4 linked regions of the Homo sapiens genome follow. The protein of the gene in region 1 purifies or fractionates together with the protein of each later gene. This does not show direct contact. Each region holds a gene or a part of one and is shown in the gene's direction. Other genes may lie near its edges.

Evidence for each region.
Region 2: the proteins of NT5C2 (region 1) and PFKP fractionate together in Homo sapiens (co-fractionation; one large-scale study listed by BioGRID). This does not show direct contact.
Region 3: the proteins of NT5C2 (region 1) and HERC4 fractionate together in Homo sapiens (co-fractionation; one large-scale study listed by BioGRID). This does not show direct contact.
Region 4: the proteins of NT5C2 (region 1) and KIFBP fractionate together in Homo sapiens (co-fractionation; one large-scale study listed by BioGRID). This does not show direct contact.

What each region holds. Positions count from the first base shown.
Region 1 is NC_000010.11:103,182,363-103,187,470, reverse strand, and holds part of NT5C2 (cytosolic purine 5'-nucleotidase), read left to right. Parts: intron 1-224; exon of another isoform or gene 225-346; intron 347-5,108. UniProt on the Homo sapiens protein: Broad specificity cytosolic 5'-nucleotidase that catalyzes the dephosphorylation of 6-hydroxypurine nucleoside 5'-monophosphates.
Region 2 is NC_000010.11:3,097,780-3,102,887, forward strand, and holds part of PFKP (ATP-dependent 6-phosphofructokinase, platelet type), read left to right. Parts: intron 1-1,495; coding exon 1,496-1,573; intron 1,574-3,141; coding exon of another isoform or gene 3,142-3,221; intron 3,222-3,585; coding exon 3,586-3,775; intron 3,776-5,108. UniProt on the Homo sapiens protein: Catalyzes the phosphorylation of D-fructose 6-phosphate to fructose 1,6-bisphosphate by ATP, the first committing step of glycolysis.
Region 3 is NC_000010.11:68,072,484-68,076,751, reverse strand, and holds the start of HERC4 (probable E3 ubiquitin-protein ligase HERC4), read left to right. Parts: upstream 1-1,468; 5' UTR 1,469-1,608; exon of another isoform or gene 1,609-3,065; 5' UTR 3,066-3,095; exon of another isoform or gene 3,096-3,565; 5' UTR 3,566-3,643; coding exon 3,644-3,869; intron 3,870-4,268. UniProt on the Homo sapiens protein: Probable E3 ubiquitin-protein ligase involved in either protein trafficking or in the distribution of cellular structures. Required for spermatozoon maturation and fertility, and for the removal of the cytoplasmic droplet of the spermatozoon.
Region 4 is NC_000010.11:68,998,803-69,002,302, forward strand, and holds part of KIFBP (KIF-binding protein), read left to right. Parts: intron 1-1,621; coding exon 1,622-1,720; intron 1,721-3,500. UniProt on the Homo sapiens protein: Activator of KIF1B plus-end-directed microtubule motor activity. Required for organization of axonal microtubules, and axonal outgrowth and maintenance during peripheral and central nervous system development.

The sequences.
Region 1 (5,108 bases):
AAGCAATTCTCTGCCTTAATCTCCCGAGTAGCTGGGATTACAGGCGCCCACCACTACACCTGGCTAATTTTTTATTTTATTTTATTTTTAGTAGAGATGGAGTTTCTTCATTTTGGCCAAGCTGGTCTTGAACTCCTGACCTTGTAATCTACCCGCCTCAGCCTCCCAAAGTGCTGGGATTACAGATGTGAGCCACTGCAACTGGCCTTTTTTATTTTTTTAAGGTGGAGTCTCTCTGTGTTGCCCAAGCTGGAGTGTAGAGGTGCGCTCTCAGCGTACTGCAACTTCCGCCTGCTGGGTTTAAGCGATTCTCCTGCCTCAGCCTCCCTAGTAGCTGGGATTACAGGTATGCGCCACCATGCCTAGCTAATTTTTGTATTTTTAGTAGAGACAGGTTTTGCCCTGTTGGCCAGGCTGGTCTTGAACTCCTGACCTCAGGTGATCCGCCCACCTCAGCCTCCCAGAGTGCTGGGATTATAGGCGTGAACCACCGCCCCTGGCCTAACATTAGAATCTTTCACAAATCTGGTCAGTAAATGCCTTTTTTTTTTTTTTTTTGAGACGGAGTCTTGCTCTGTCACCCAGGCTGGAGTGCAGTGGCTCCATGTCAGCTCACTGCAGCCTCCATCTCCCGGGTTCAAGCTGTTCCTCTGCCTCAGCCTCCCTAGTGCTGGGATTACAGGCATGTGCCACCACGCCTGGCTATTTTTTTGTATTTTTAGTAGAGACGGGGTTTCACTGTGTTAGCCAGGATGGTCTCGATCTCTGTACCTTGTGATCCGCCCGCCTCGGCCTCCCAAAGTGCTGGGATTACAGGCATGAGCCACCGCACCCAGCCAGTAAATGCCATTTTTTTAAGCCTTGAATTACTCGTTTACTTTTGAAGTAGGTTTGGTGAAATAAATCTTGAATTAATTCTCTCTAGGTCTGAGAGCTTCCAGGAAGAAAGGAAACAAACCTATAGCTATAGTTGTCCTTATATTTAGGATACTTTAATTGACGTGATAAATGTGTGAAATTGTTACAGCCTCTGATACGTAATGGACGCTATGAGGTTTTGACTCCAAAAGTAGAAGCCTATTACTCATTCCTGCAAACATCAAGTACTGTATTGTGCTAAGGCTTCAAGTATTCAAACATCTTGCACTCAAGCATTATAAACAGTTTATATTGACCAATTTCCATGTCTCAGCCACTGTTCTTAGCACCTTACATCCTTGTTCCAACTCTACCTGTTTTGCAATGGAAGAAACTGTAGTGCTTATAATTTGCTTAGTCGTAGAGCTAGTTGGTGTTAGAGCCAGGTTTTGAACGCAGGCAGTGTGGCTCCAGAATCCGTACTCTTAACCACAGTATAATTCTGTGACTTCAAATTATCTAACTTCTCTTTCCTGTTTACTTCTTCGTAAAATGAGGATAATAGTACCTAACATATAGGGTTGTTCTGAAAAGTCAGTGAGTTAAAATATGTACTATGCTGCTTAGAATCATACATGAAAAATAGTAAGTACTCAATAAATGTCAGCTGTTATTATGTTAGCATTATTAAGGCATCGAACTCATGCATATCTCTGAATTTTAACCAAATAGGTGGACTAAACCTTAAGTATGAATTTATATATTAAAAGGTAGAAATACTGTGGTCTGTGGTTATTTATGCCTTTCCGATTTTATCTTTTTAAATTATTTTGTAACAGGAAAAATAAGAGCTAAACCAAAGTTGAATGGTGAGCAGGAGTTCATTGGTAAGAGAATGAGTTCTTTCCTGAAATAAAGCAGTTTTTTACCTGCTTTTTTTTTTTTTTCCTTTTTTTTTTTTTTGGAGACAGGGTCTTTGTCTGTTGTCCAGGCTGGAGTGTGCAGTGGTGCGATCTTGGCTCACGCAATCTCTGCCTTCCCGGCTCAAGCAATCTTCCTACCTCAGCCTCCCGAGTAGCTGGGTCTACAGGCACCCGTCACCATGCCTGTCTAATTTTTGCATGTTTTTATAGAGATGGGGGTTTTGCCATGTTGCTTAGGCTGGTCTCGAACTCCTAGGCTCAAGGGATCCGCCTGGCTTGGCCTCCCAGAGTGGTGGGATTATAGGTGTGAGCCACTGCACCTTGCCCTATGTATTTTTTTTTTTTAAAGGAGTATTCAGGAGTCATTACTAAAGGTGCAAAGTATTATATATCGTCTGAATGTAAAAATTGTACAGCTGGTTTATACCTTTATGCTTTTGAAGACCTCAGTTAATTATGGCAACGTTTTGAAGAAATAGCTCAGTCTTTTAAAATGTTTTCCTTACATGCTCTCTTGTTCCTTTGTGTCAATAACCATGTTATTGTTGAAGGTCCGGTATTATTCAAAACATTCAGTTAGAAGCAGCCTTAATGTGTTGATGTAGAACAAATATATAGCATTCTATGTGATATGGCAGGATAGTAGCAATAGAATGTTGATGAGAACATAGCAAAATTAGTCTTTTTTGTATATTTTCAAAAGTTTAGGAACAGATGAAATAAATTTGTAGTTTCTAGTTACAATTTCAGACTACAGATAGGAGCATGTAGCTGCTTGAAGAAGAAAAACAAATTGTCAAGGCAACAGGTACTGCATTTCTCACTCGACAAGTTCTCTCTTCTCAACTTTGTTATTTTTCCTTCGGAGAACAAGGAAGCTTTTGTTCCGAGGCCTGATGTTGAAATGTTAGCAAAATATTATGTTAATCAAGCCAAGAATCTTATGTATTTGTGAACCAAGAATAAGATTTCACAAAGATTCATTTAGAGTATTAAAAGGGACTTCTGCAGTTATTCTTGCATTTTCAGGCTTACACAAAAATAGGCTTCTGAAAAGCAAAGGGCTCCATGTGTAGACGTTTAATGGTTCATTTATTTCTGTCTGTTAAGTCTACTGTGCGAGATGCTGGGGATACAGCAGCAAATAAAACACTCCTCTCCCTTATGGAGCTTATATTTTGGAGAGATTGACAGAATGCAAACTGTCAAATGTAAGGGTTATGTGCAAAAAACAAGTAAAGCAGGGTAAGAGGACAGTGAGTGATGTGTGTGGGTAAGTGTGATGTTATTAGTTGGAGTTTGTTAACTGTTGGCATCACTTTGGTGTGTGAACTATTGAGTGTTGGCCTTTGACAGGAATGTGTAGTGCAGTTTGGGACAAGTGACATAAAGAACTCTGAATGAAAATAATGAAATGAAAAATAAACAAAAAAACTTGTTTATAGGCTGGGCACGGTGGCACATTCCTGTAATTCCAGCACTTTGGGAGGCAGGTGGATCACTTGAGGTCAGGAATTCGAGACCAGCCTAACCAACACGGTGAAACCCCGTCTGTACTAAAAATACAAAATTAGCCGGGCGTGGTGGCTCATGCCTGTAATCCCAGCTACTTGGGAGGCTGACGCAGGAGAATCGCTTGAATCTGGGAGGCGGAGGTTGCATTGAGCCGAGATCGCGTCATTGCACTCCAGCCTGGGCAACAAGAGTGAAACTCTGTCTCAAAAAAACTAAAAAAAAAAAAAACCAAAAACTTATCATGAACTATTTAAAAGATGAGAGGTAATGAAACATTTAAGATAATTTAAATGCAACAGTTTCAAGGAGCCTTCTGGAAAAATAGGCATTTCTTCATCTTAAACTATTTTATTTTTTAATTTTTATAGATTTAGGGGGTACAGTTTTGGATATATAGCATAGCAGTGGTCTGGCTTTTTAGTGTAACCATCACCTGAATAGTGTACATTGTACTCATCAGGTAATTTCTCATCCCTCACCCTCCTCCCACCCCCACTTAAAGTATATATATATGTGTGTGTGTATGTGTGTATGTATATGTATATATATATATATGGCGTGAACCCAGGAGGCAGAGCTTGCAGTGAGCTGAGATGGTGCCACTGTACTCCAGCCTGGAAGACAGAGCGAAAGAGACTTCGTCTTTAAAAAAAAAAAAAAAAAAAAGCATTTGTTTAATTATTTTTGCAGTAGAAGAAAAGAAAGGAAGAATGATGCAGAGGCAATATTGAGAGGGATTTGGGGCAGGAATTTTTCAAAATTCATTAGAGTTATTAAAGAACAGTTTAAAACTAGTAATTCCAAGAAGGAGGGATAGATTGTTAAAAAAAAAAAAAAAAAGCTAATAATTTCAGGAAAGAGGGGAGGGAAGGAGTGTGTGATATATATATATATATATATATATATATATATCACACACACACATATATATATATCTCCTTTCATGTGTTTTGTGATGATAAGGAGTAAAGGTTACAAAATACTTAAAAAAGCTATAGCTTATTTCACAGTGCTATTCTTTGAGTTATAGGTGACACTGTTAACTACAAATATGAGGATTTAGTTTTTCAGCAGTACTGGTAGATGAATTAAAGTAAACTTGCATCTGACTTTCCATGTTTTTAAGGGGATGTATTTGTAAGTAAGTTGGTCTGTGGCTATGTTACAGAGAGGCCCTTAAGCACAATATAATGATAAAACCAAATGTCTAACTACTATAGGTTATTGATTTTACTTGCTTATCTGCCAAGGACTAGGGTTATCAAAGACTGAATAAAATGTGGCTATTTAGTACAATATGAGGCATACAAATGGAGGATATAGCTTTAACTTTTGTTTTTCCATAAACTAGTTTAACATGAGTAATATGCAGTGAAAGTTGTTGTATTTAGAGACCAAAATAAGTTTCAGGCTGGTGAGAAAATTTGAAGAAATTATTCAAAATTATCCTTTCCATGTAAGTTTTAGGGCAGTGTTCTTAGAATGAGAATGAATGGTTGATTATAAAACTTAAAAATGCCAAGTTTAGTTTTTTTTTTTTGAGATGGAGTCTTGCTCTGTCACCCAGGCTAGAGTACAGTGGCGGGATCTCGGCTCACTGCAAGCTCTGCCTCCTGGGTTCAAGTGATTCTCCTGCCTCACCCTCCCAAGTTGCTGGGATTATGGGTGCCTGCCACCACGCCTGGCTACTTTTTATATTTTTAGTAGACAGGGTTTCACCATGTTGGCCAGGCTGGTCTTGAACTCCTGACCTCAGATGATCCACCCGCCTCGGCTTCCCAAAGTGCTGGGATTACAGGTGTGAGCCACCCA
Region 2 (5,108 bases), about 100 Mb from region 1:
AGATCACTTGAGGTCAAGAGTTGGAAACCAGCCTGGCCAACATGGTGAAACCCTGTCACTACTTTAAAACAAAAACAAAATTAGCCAGATGTGGTAGTGTGTTCCTGTAATCCCAAGTACTCTGGAGGCTGAGGCAGGAGAATTGCTTGAACCTGGGAGATGTAAGTTGCAGTGAGCCGAGATCGTGCCACTGCACTCCAGCCTGGGCAACAGAGCAAGACTCTGTCTCAAAAATAAAATAAAATAAACACACATATATATATAATATTTCTGGTAGAAATTTATAAATATAAGTATACAAATTGGCCAGCTATCAAGGTGCCTGCACTATTGATTAATTTATATATAGAACTCCATAATCTATGAGTCATTTCAATTTTAAAAACCTTTCTTTTTTCTGTCCTCCGGACCTTCACTAAGGTGGGCTTATGGATCCAACAATAATCTATCATGAACTTTTCTAAATCCTTAATAGTTATTCCTTCTTAAGATTAAATGCTGTGGAAAGTGAGTTATGTAGATGAAGTTACCCGTGGGCATTGCTGCATTTCCTGATCTTGTATATTCCGTGGAGAAAAAGATGGGGATGCATTTAGCATTGAAAGGTAATTGTTGGCCAGGCGCGGTGGCTCACGCCTGTAATTCCAGCACTTTGGGAGGCTGAGGCAGGCGGATCATGAGGTCAGGAGTTTGAGACCAGCATGGCCAACAAGGTGAAGCCCCGTCTCTACTAAAAGCTACAAAAATTAGCCAGGTGCAGTGGCAGGCACCTGTAATCCCAGCTGCTCAGGAGGCTGAGGCAGGAGAATCACTTCAACCCGGGAGGCAGGTTGCAGTGAGCCGAGATCGCGCCACTGCACTCCAGCCTGGGTGACAGAGTGAGACTCCGTCTCAAAAAAAAAAAAAAAAAAGGTAATTGTCCTTGGGCTTCTTCTATCAATGTGTCCTCACATATTGATATCTGATTCCCTAATGCAGCACCGTGTCATTAATGGAGGGTAAGGCAGACAATTATTATTCAGCTGTGCTGTTTAATAATATTCAACATACATCCCAAGTGGCGCAGGGTGCCTTGGCAGGCGGAGCCCCTGACAAAATGCTCCCATGTATGTCCCGTGCTCGACAGTGCTGTGTGCCTGTGAGTTTGTGCTGAAGTATGATAAACACGTTGGGTGAAAGTGACCCCTTTCAACCTCTAGCGAAACACGACCCTTTCAACCTCTCGGGAAACGCTGGGCCATAGGAGAATGGCTTGATTCCTCATTGCACTGTGAGGCTGAGTCTAGGCAGACGTTCCCATTACTAGGGACTCAAGGTGAGGACTTTCCCACAATTCACTGCTTTTATCCAGTGCTGGAACTGCCCTGTCTTCTGACCAGTGGATGCTGAGGAACTGACATTCACTGTCATTTTTCCCGTTTTATATAATTTAAGGATCACTTCCCATTTAGTGAAGTTTATCTCATTTTTAAAAGATTCTCCCTTTCTCCCCTAGGGCTACCAGGGCATGGTGGACGGAGGCTCAAACATCGCAGAGGCCGACTGGGAGAGTGTCTCCAGCATCCTGCAAGTGGTAGGTACTGGGCTGCGTCCACAGGGTTCTCTGAGTTAGAGACTCTTTTATGTCTAGTAAATTCCCAGAACACTTGAGCTCAGATCAGTTGCGAAATAGAGATTATGTGGACAGAACAGACTTTGTGAGCAGCTCTTTACTTGTGGTTTGATTTTTAGAAATGCATGTGTTAATCTGTGAGTCACTTTGAGTACTTGTTAATAGAAATAATCCAAATCGGTGCCTCCCCGCTGAAGACGCTCATGGGGCCCACACCTTCGTGCTGGTCCAGGCTCTCTCTGCATTGGGCGCCTCCTGAGCTCCGACACATCAGAAGAGAGGTGGAGGGAATTTTGACAACCACGGAAGTTAGGTGGAGCAACGTTTGCAAAACATCAGGAGAGTGTGGGCTGAATTCACACAGGGGAGCGTTTCCATTCTGCGGTCGTGATTGACGGAGGAAGATAAGATGTGAACGGAGAGTTGAAGTGCGTATGTGTATCAGTGAGTCTGTGTTTCTGTGTGTGGTGTATGTGGTGTGTGAATCTCGGTGTGTGTGTAACTGTGTGAGTCTGGTGTGTGTCTGTATGTAGGTGTGTGAGTCTGAGTGTGTATGTGTGGTGTGCCCGTGTGTATGTGTTAACTGTGTGAATTTCTGGCTAGCGAATGTGTATCTGTGTGTGGGGTGTGTGTATATGTGGTGTCCTTGTATGTGTAGGTGTGTGGTGTGTGTGTGTGTGTGTGTGTGTGTGTGAAAGAGAGTGAGTGAGAGAATGGGAATGGCACCCACTCCTCTGCAGCCCAGTTATCCTGGTTTCGTTCCTGAGTTGCGGCCACCTCGTCTCTTTGGTTGGAGTTTCTGGGTTGCTGGCTCTAGCTCCCATTGTGCTGGCTCTCGTGCTGCCCCCCAGGTTTTTGTCCAGGCAGAGTCCAGAGAGCACCCCTGCCCTGCTCTGCGCCCCCACCCTCACTTGCCTTGGGGGTTGGGTTGTAAATGGTCTCGGTCACACTTGGTGCCAGTGACGTAGGATCGTGTGGAGTGAATTTCAGTTTTTGTAACCTTTTCATAATGTTTTGATAAATTAAATGGTGGTAGGTTTCATGTAAAAATAGGAGCTTTTCTGGGATTTGGAATATTAGTGAGTCTCTGTGTGTGAAAATGAGCTGTGTGCGTGCACCATTGGTGTATCGAAACACGCACTCACGTCACTGCAGGGGTCTCCTGGGAGCTGCCTGCAGACCGAAGGCAGGGAGAGCTTCGCCTCCAGTGCAGAGACAACCCCTGCTGTGCTTATGAGCACCTTGCTTGACAAAGTCAGCACGCGCTTAGGGATCCCGTACGGATGGAGTTTTTTGGTGCATTCATGGTTTTATTTAAAGAAATCTTGCATTTGTGGATCCCACCAACAATTCTTAGTTTTTGGAAAACCAAGTGTGACGAATCATGATCTATGTCCCCTGGAAGTTTGGATGAAAGAATTTAAGATCCTGAAGATATAGCTCTTTAAAAGGGGCAGCGAGTATGTGGTGCAAAAAAAAAAAAAAAAAAAATCCCCCTGGCCCCAGGTTCCTGCTGGTTTTACTTGCAGGTGCTGTAAGGGGTGACTGGAGGGAGAAGCCTGGCTGCTGGTCACACCGCTTCCCTTGTCCTGGCCGGCATGCTCTGGTGGTCAGTGGGCTTGTCTTTGGTTCCACGTGCACCTGGTTGAGCTCGTTGGCCGGTGCTGAGGCGGCTGCTGTGACACCGCAGGCTGGTTCCTGCTCCATGTATTTAACTGCTGGCTGCCGTGTGTCTGGCTCTGCACCCTCCCTGGCTCCTCCTGGGTGTCACGCGCCTGTCTTTGTCCATGGAATGCTGGTCTGGGACTAAAAACAGGAAAATCACAGTCTTTCATAGCTAGTTACTAACTCACAAGATGAAAATGAGAAAAATGTAAATTCTAGCACCCCATGTTTATAGTCGGCCTGTGTGTGCCATCCACCTGGCGCTCTCTCAGACTGAGAGGAGATAAATTAGCTGGTGTCTTTCCCAGGGCGGGACGATCATTGGCAGTGCGCGGTGCCAGGCCTTCCGCACGCGGGAAGGCCGCCTGAAGGCTGCTTGCAACCTGCTGCAGCGCGGCATCACCAACCTGTGTGTGATCGGCGGGGACGGGAGCCTCACCGGGGCCAACCTCTTCCGGAAGGAGTGGAGTGGGCTGCTGGAGGAGCTGGCCAGGAACGGTGAGTGGACACCTGCTCCTCTGTCCTGCGGGTTTTCGCCCTGTTTCAGAGCTTTGGAACCGACAGGTTTCCCTCTTCACTGTGGCAGAAGTACCTCTTCTCACAGATCTTACAGGTCACCATCTCAGGACTTTTTAGGATCTCAAAAAACAACAGCAATGATCGTAAGAATGCTAGTAATTTAACCTTACCATGTGCCAGGCACCCTTCGACCTTTCACACAGATAGCTTTATGGAATCCTCACGACAGCCATCTAAGCCAGGTTTTAGATCATCCCATTTACAGATGAGGAATCAAACGGCCACTCAGCCGTGGGGCGAGCCGGGTCCCCAGCAGCCTGGGACACTAGCATCCGCCTTTCAGCCCTCACACTGTGTCCCTCCAGCTCGCTGGGGTCCTTTAAAACTGAAGTTGGGCCGGGCGCGGTGGCTCACGCCTGTAATCCCAGCACTTTGGGAGGCCGAGGCGGGCGGATCACGAGGTCAGGAGATCGAGACCATCCCGGCTAAAACGGTGAAACCCCGTCTCTACTAAAAATACAAAAAATTAGCCGGGCGTAGTGGCGGGCGCCTGTAGTCCCAGCTACTTGGGAGGCTGAGGCAGGAGAATGGCGTGAACCCGGGAGGCGGAGCTTGCAGTGAGCCGAGGTCCCGCCACTGCACTCCAGCCTGGGCGACAGAGCGAGACTCTGTCTCAAAAAAAAAAAAAAAAAAAAAAACTGAAGTTGCCACAGGACTTTAATTTATTTAGACGATAAATCTCTGCCAATACATCATCCAGTACCAACTTTGGCACTACTTAGGAAAGCGTTTCTGAGAGCCCTGTGTGTATGTGGTTTATTTTTGTTTTGTTTGATTGTTTGATTTTGTTTGTTTTGAGACAGAGTCTTTCTCCATTGCCCAGGCTGGAGTGCAGTGGCACGATCTCGGCTCACTGCAACATCTGCCTCCTGGGTTCAAGCAATTCTCCTGCCTCAGCCTCCCAAGCAGCTGGGATTACAGGCATGCGCCACCACACCCAGCTTTTTTAAAATTTTTTTATTTATTTTTTATTTTTAGTAGAGATAGGGTTTCGCCATGTTGGCCAGGCTGGTCTCGAACTCCTGACCTCAGGTCATCCACCCGCTTCGGCCTCCCAAAGTGTAGTTTTTCTCCCTTGAAGCGGTTATGTAATTTCAGTGCAATATTAAATATGACCAGGGAAGCATATTGTTTAACAGCAACTCGATGAGAGGCGGCATTGAGGCAAAGCAGCTGTCCCCAGGTTTGTGAACATCCTCGTAGGGGATGGAGAAGGCTGCCCGTTGGAAGCAGCCAGGCCTCACGGTTCCCG
Region 3 (4,268 bases), about 35 Mb from region 1:
ATCTGGTGTCCTTATAAAAGAGGGAAATTTGGACAGACACACAGGGAAAACAAGGTGAAGAGGGATGCTTCTACAAGGATTGCCAAGGATTGTTGGCAACCACCAGAAGCTAGCAGAGAAGCCTGGAAAAGATTATCTCTCAGAGACCCCAAGAGAGAACCAAGCTTACTTTCACCTTGATTTTGAACTGGTCTTCAGAACTGTGAGACAATAAATTTCTGTTGTTTTAAGCCACCGAATCTGTTTTAATTTATATGGCAAGCCTAGGACACGAATACACACACTTGAACATATTCTAGCACAGACAGTTCTTATCTAAAACATGTTTTTCAACAAGAGATAAAGAAACAGGCCAGGACCGGTGGCTCACGCCTGTAATTCCAGCACTTTGGGAGGCCGAGGCGGGTGGATCGCCTGAGGTAACGAGTTTGAGACCAGCCTGGCCAATATGGCGAAACCTTGTCTCTACTAAAAATGCAAAAATTAGCCGGGCATGGCGGCGCATGCCCGTTGTCCCAGCTACTCAGGAGGCTAAGGCGGAAGTTCCAGTGAACTGAGATCGCACCATTGCACTCCAGCCTTGGGGAACAGAGCGAGACTCTGTCTCAATAAATAAATAAATAAATAAATAAATAAAAATAAGAAAAGAAAAAGAAAGATGGCCTATTTGTGGAACTTCTTCTAGGTACTGAATATTCATTCTAGCAATACCCAACTTACAATTTCAAAAGTGCATTGTTTCAAGTTCTCCTGCTTTTTAAGAAGTTAAGGCTGGCCTAGGAGATCCAGACTTCGTTTTTATGAATCAGGGACTGCAGCCAATGTGTAATTTTCTCTGATAGAATGAGACCCTGCAATTCAAGCCTATCTTTCAGGGAGAGTGTAGAAAGTGATGGTAGCCAACACTGTACAAGGAAACTGAACTGGTGGTGGTGGTAGTAGAGTAGCTTCAGCCATTGCCATCAACACATCTCACATCCTCAGACTGGCTCCAGTTGAGGCCATGGGATAAAATAACTCTTCACCAGTCTTTATGTTCATAATTGTGATGTTTCATCTGCTACTTTAAAATCTCCTTGGGAAAAGAGAGAGTAAAATAATAAAAAGACTAGCTAGCATCCATGAGCACAAAGACAACCAAACCAAAAAACAAAGTGATTTTCTTCATTAAAAGGCTTTGTGCACGCCGAAGCATTCTCAAAAACAGTTGACATCTTCTTCGTTTGTCTTCGCAAACTCCAACTTTCTGTATTTGGCTTTTCCCTCTTAAAGCAACGCAAAGCGGCACACTGCGCAGGCGCCTGTGGCCAGCCACCCCCCCCCCCCCCCCCCCGGAAGATTCGGCGCAGGCGCCGGTGCCGGGGCCGGGAAGTGGGCGGGCTCGCGCGCGTGCTCTGCGGTTCACTTCCGGCCAGCCCCTCCCCCGCCTCCCTCGCGTGGCCACCTCCCCCTCTGCCTTCTCCTACCCAGTCTCTTCCCCAACTCTCCCCACCCCTGGTGCTCTCCGCCCCGCTTGCCTCCCGTTCTTCCCCGCCCGCTCCATCCGGGTCGCTGACGGCTGTCTCTGGACTGGACAGCAGTGGCGTCCGCTTTTCTCTAAGGAACCCGGTAAAGTTTCCCAGGGGCCGGGGAGGGGAGCAGCGGAGCAGCGGCACAGACGCCGGAGGTGCCCTGGTGATCGTCGCCACTGGCTGACAGAGGAGGGTCCCAGGAGCCGGAGACGTGCTTCAGCGACCGCGCTGCCTTGCTCTCTGGGCAGGGGCCGCCCCCCGTCACCTTGGGCTTCCCCTACCCTGAAGGGCTTGGGCGAGTTGTGGCCCCAGCGGGTTCGGGGGCGTGTGACGGCGTTAGGGAGGGGCAGGCCGGGCTGGGCGGATGCAGGCCGGCCCGGCATAGGGCGCTTTCTCCGCGCTTCCTGGGGGTGAGGGGCGTGGGGCGAGGGCAGGGCTGTGGCTCCCTGGCCCCGGGGCTGGAATGTCTCATCTGCCTGGGGATGGGCTTCTCTCAGGTTGAGGCCGCGCACTGCCAAGCCTCGGCCGCCGGCCTCTGAAGCTGTTGCGAGCGGCCGGTTGCGGTAGTCGTCTGCTTGGCTGCGAGGTTGGGTGTGTGCAGATGATTTCTCTTTCCCAGTCCCCATGAGCTGATCTGGGTGCACGTTCAGGGAAAGACGGGACTAAACTGCTTCTCATTTCCCTACCTGTTGCTGGCGAGAGGACGCCTCTGTGTTTTAAAGAAAAGGGTGGTTAAACCTCGCGCGCTGAAGTCGGGGTATTTTCCTGTATTACTCTTATTTTGTTTTTAAATATGGGAAGACAATGCAGAACTCTTGGGAATTATCGAGTTCTGATACCCCAAAAGAATGAAATCAAACTTCTGTTAATGGGATGATGGGTCGTGGAATGGGACACCTTGGGCACTTGCTAACAGGAACATAGGAAAATTGGAGTTGAAACTTCGCAGGCTCTGTAAGAATGTGGATGACTGCTACAGAATAAGGCTGACTTCCTGTAATTATGATATTTAGTAACGCGATGTGTTTAAAAGTCTACGTATGTATAGATGAAGTGGACTCTGTTATTTGTGTCTTTCTTTACAAGTGAGGAAATATTCAGTCAGTGTGCTGGAAAGTTCTACAGATTTCGCCATCAGACTATCCATTCCTATTCTTGAAAAATCTGCAGTGCTGGAGTTATTTGCAATTCCCCCCCGCCAATCTTTAAATAATTGTCTCAGAGATATAGATAGATATAGATTGCCCACGGGTGATTTTTTTAATCCCGGTTACCACTTGTAATAAAAGAGGTTGAATTTTGGAGAGAATTGATATTTAAATTGCATGTTTTTTTTTCTGTATTATAATTATGCACATTGATTTAGTTTTAAAATTAGTGAGGTTGGAATGTTAGTATTTTGATTTGAAATCTGGGATCTTTGGAGGTGATTTAAGATTATGGTTTGGTAAGAGAATCTTCATTTTCTCTCTGGGCTAAAGAGTAATTGGGAGAGTCGTTTAAATTGTGGAAAATTGCTTTAAATTTCCATTATTGGTTTTATTTCTGTTACAGATAAGAACTCCATTTTCTGTTGATGTGGAGGTAGGTATTAGAAAGCTTAATTATACTAGGATTGCAAGGTTATGTTTCTGCAGTTGGCTAAATTTTGCACTGTGTATATTTGCTTTTTGGGCAGAGGAAAGATGTCTTATTTCTTGTTCCCATTGAAATTATTTAAAGCAAAAAGTAGAAAAAATTGTGATTAATTTCATCAAGGTACTTATTCCTATTAGTTTAGTCTATCACAAGATAACCAGAAGTCAAAACTAGTTAATATGTTTTAAATTTTGCAAAGGATCATAGAAAGTGTCATATTTTCCCTAAAAATTTCTGTATGATACATTTTAAAAAATACAACTGATTGGTTTTTGAAACTGAATGATACTTATGTAGCATGTTATAAAGTATATTTAATGTTTACCATGTAGCAATTATTGTAGCCTAGCACTTGAAAGAGCAATTATACATCCTTTTTTCTTTGAAGTCATATTAACTTCTTTCTATTTCCTCAGACATAGGGTACCTCCAACTTTCCGGGGTTTCAGAAGAGAATTTTTTATTGAAACTGGAAGACCAAAATAATTACAAGCATGTTGTGCTGGGGAAATGCATCCTTTGGGCAGCTAGGTTTGGGTGGAATTGATGAAGAAATTGTACTAGAGCCCAGAAAAAGTGACTTCTTTATAAATAAAAGGGTCCGAGATGTAGGATGTGGACTCAGACATACTGTGTTTGTTCTGGATGATGGAACAGTGTACACATGTGGATGTAATGATCTAGGACAGCTAGGTCATGAAAAATCCAGAAAGAAACCAGGTAAGTTGAAATGTTTTTAAAATTTGCTATTTTTAATAATTATATCATTTTAAATTTGAATCATCGTATAATTTCTCTAGTTGTAACTATATGTTTATCAAGCTTTAAAAGCAAAGTAGAAGTTATGTATTTCCATTATATGTGTATATTTGTATGGTTCTAAGTACTTTATGTTGTGGTTTCTTTTTTTTTACTACTAGTATTATAAAACCTTATTTTGTATGACGATATAAAACAATAAAGAAAATCAGCCTGCAGTATATAAATCTTTGGTACAGAGTGTGTAGTGTGCAGGTCCTCTTTAATAAATTCTGTTCAGCCACCCTGGATAGATTTTAAATGCATAATTTACTCTGTGTTTACCTTACTTTGGGAGGGGGGAGGAAAACAAGACGGAAG
Region 4 (3,500 bases), about 34 Mb from region 1:
TCTCAATCTGTAGCCCAGGCTGGAGTGCAGTGGCACGATCTCGGCTCACTGTAACCTCCACCTCCTGGGTTCAAGCAATTCTTCTGCCTCAGCCTCCCAAGTAGTTGGGATTACAGGCATCTGCCACCACACTCGGCTAAATTTTTTTTGTATTTTTCAGTAGAGATGGGGTTTCACCACGTTGGCCAGGCTGGTCTCGAACTCCTGACCTCAAGTGATCTGCCTACTTCGGCCTCCCAAAGTGCTGGGATTACAGGTGTGAGCCACTGTGCCGGGCCCATATATATAATTTTTTGGTTTTGGTTTTGTTTTTGAGACAGAGTCTTGCTCCATCACCCAGGTAGGAGTGCAATGGCACGATCTCGGCTCACTGCAACCTCTGCCTCCCAGGTTCAGGCAGTTCTCGTGCCTCAGCCCCCCAAGCAGCTGGGATTACAGGTGCACGCCACCACTCCTGGCTAATTTTTATGTTTTTAGTAGAGATGGGGTTTCACCATTTTGGCCAGGCCGGTCTTGAACTTCTCGCCTCAAGTGATCTGCCTGCCTCGGCCTCCCAAAGTGCTAGAATTACAGGCGTGAGCCACCATGCCTGGCCTATTTCTTTTTTTTTTAAAAAAAAAGTTCTCTGGAAGAGCATAGTATTTTGAAAGTATTATATGTTTCTGATCCATCTTTGTCTATTATCTCAGAATCTCACCATGGCTTAGCTGATTGTTCCTTACTCAAAGGCCCACATCATATTGTTGACCTGCTGGGGCTCGCAGTAATACTTGAAGACTGGGACGCCGGGAGGATCCATTTCCAACTTACTCACATGGTTGTTGGCAGGATTCAGTTCCTCACAGGCTTTTTGACTGAGGGCCTCAGACTGTTGACCTCTCTCATTTCCTTTCCATATGGGCTTCTCCATAGGGTGGCTCACAACATGGCAGTTGGCTTCCTTAAGAAGGAGCAGGCAATTGACCGGGCGCGGTGGCTGACGCCTGTAATCCCAGCACTTTGGGAGGCTGAGGTGGGTGGATCATGAGGTCAGGAGATTGAGACCATCCTGGCTAAAACGGTGAAACCCCGTCTCTACTAAAAATACAAAAAATTAGCCGGGCGTGATTGCGGGCGCCTGTAGTCCCAGCTACTTGGGAGGCTGAGGCAGAAGAATGGTATGAACCTGGGAGGCAGAGCTTGCAGTGAGCTGAGACCATGCCACTGCACTCCATCCTGGGCGACAGAGCGAGACTCCGTCTCAAAAAAAAAAAAAAAAAAAAAGCAGGCAATAGATAGCATCCAAAATGGAAATCAAGGGTTTTGTTAACTAATCTTGGAAATGACTTTCCATCACTTCTGTGATAGTCTAGTCGTGAGAAGCACATCACTAAAACCAGCCTGTACTCAAGGGGAAGAGGTTACCTAAGAGCATGAATACCCCGAAGCAGGGATCATTGGGGGTTAATTTTAGCAGCTACCTGCTGCACTACATAAGGTCAATATCATTGTGAATAATTAATTCATTGGTAATCCAACTCTACTATTTGGTTGGTTATAAGTATTGACTTCAAAACTATGAAAGTTACTTTAATTGGAAGTCTTATATCATTGTTTGTTTCTCTTTTTCTTTATTTTCCAGAATAACCTGGGTATCTTGTGGTCTGAAAGAGAAGAAATTGAAACTGCACAGGCTTACCTAGAGTCATCAGAAGCACTATATAATCAGTATATGAAAGAGGTATGTTACATGTCAGATGAGTTTTAAGTTTTGATTGAAACTAGTTAAGAATTGATAGTAAGAATCCCTCATTCGTAATATTGGTGTGACTCTTCACTGTGCCCTAGAACTTCTCTATAGAGCCATCTGGGAAGTCACCTCATAGCTGAAATTATTGCATATTAAAGACTTCAGGGTTTTAAAAAAATAATCCTTGTATAGGACATAATGGCCACCTAGTCTAAATACAATTATAAAGGAAATATTATTCTAGTGTTATCCTAAAATACTATTTGCATGTTTTTGTATTTATAATCTAAACATTCTATTTTAGTTTTCCATGAAAATAGCACTACTTGAAGGAAACAAGAACTACTTTAACAAAACATCTGAAATCTTTGAAGCAATGGTTCTCAAATGTTAGCACCCATCAAAATCTGGAGAGCTCATGAAAGCACAGCAGACTGGGCATCCAGGCTCTGATTTAGTAGTTCTGGGGTGGGGCCTAGGAATTTGCATTTTTAATAAGATCCTGCCTGGGTGATGCTTAAATGCTGCTGGTCTAAGTACTATACTGTACTTTGAGAACCACTGCTTCAGGGCAATGGTTTTTCAATGATTTTTTTTTTTTTTAACCCGTGAAACCCTTCTGAAAATGCAGCATATAAAAATTGATTGAGTTACTCTGGTTAAGCAGGTTAGAAGGACCCAGAGCCCACTCCACTACAGATTCTTCCTCCTCCCCACTGCAGTAGCACAAAAGAGATGCTGTAGAACTTTTAGGGGTCTGGGGAGCCAACATTGAAAACTCTCACTTTAGGGGTCACAGCCTGCAAAGGTGACAAGCCACTGTGTTACCATCTGTTTCCTTAATAAACTTTTTTTTAATATGAAAGGGAAATAATCAGGCACAATATTTTCTTGTGGATTACTATTTGTCACAGCTATCTGCTTTAAAAATCCATTAATACGGCTGAGCATGGTGGCTCATGCCTGTAATCCCAGCATTTTGGGAGGCCGAGGCAGGTGGATCACTTGAGATCAGGAATTCGAGACCAGCTTGGGCAACATGGTGAAATCCCATCTCTACTAAAAATACAAAACAGCAGGCATGGTGGCGCACGCCTGTAGTCCCAGCTACTCAGGAGACTGAGGCAGGAGAATCGTTTGAACCTGGGAGGCAGAGGCTGCAGTGAACTGAGATCACGCCACTGCACTCCGGCCTGGGCGACAGTGAGACCCTGTCTCAAAAAAAAAAAAAATCCATTAATAAAGTGCTTTTATAACATTAAAAAAGTTGAAATAACATTAGATATCACATAAAAGAGACTAAACATACAAAATTATGTTTGCTAAATTCATGCGTCAGAATGCTTGACTGCAAAAGGATATAAGAAGCTTGGTATGCCTGTAATCCCAGCACTTTGGGAGGCTGAGGCTGGAGGATCACTTGAGCCCAGGAGTTTGAGACCAGCCTGCGCAACACAGGAAGACCTCATCACTACAAAAAATTAAAAAATTTGCCAGATGTGGCACACACTGTAGTTTTAGCTACTTGGGAGATTGAGGCAGGAGGGTCGCTTGAGCCCAGGAGTTTGAGGTTGCAGTGAGCTATCATCGAACCACTGTACTCCAGCCTGGGTGACAGAGCAAGATTCTGTCTTTTTTTTTTTTTTGAGATGGAGTCTCGCTCTGTTGTCCAGGCTGGAGTGCAGTGGCGTGATCTCGGCTCACTGCAACCTCCACCTCTTGAGTTCAAGTAATTCTCCTGCCTCAGCCTCCCAAGTGGCTGAGATTATAG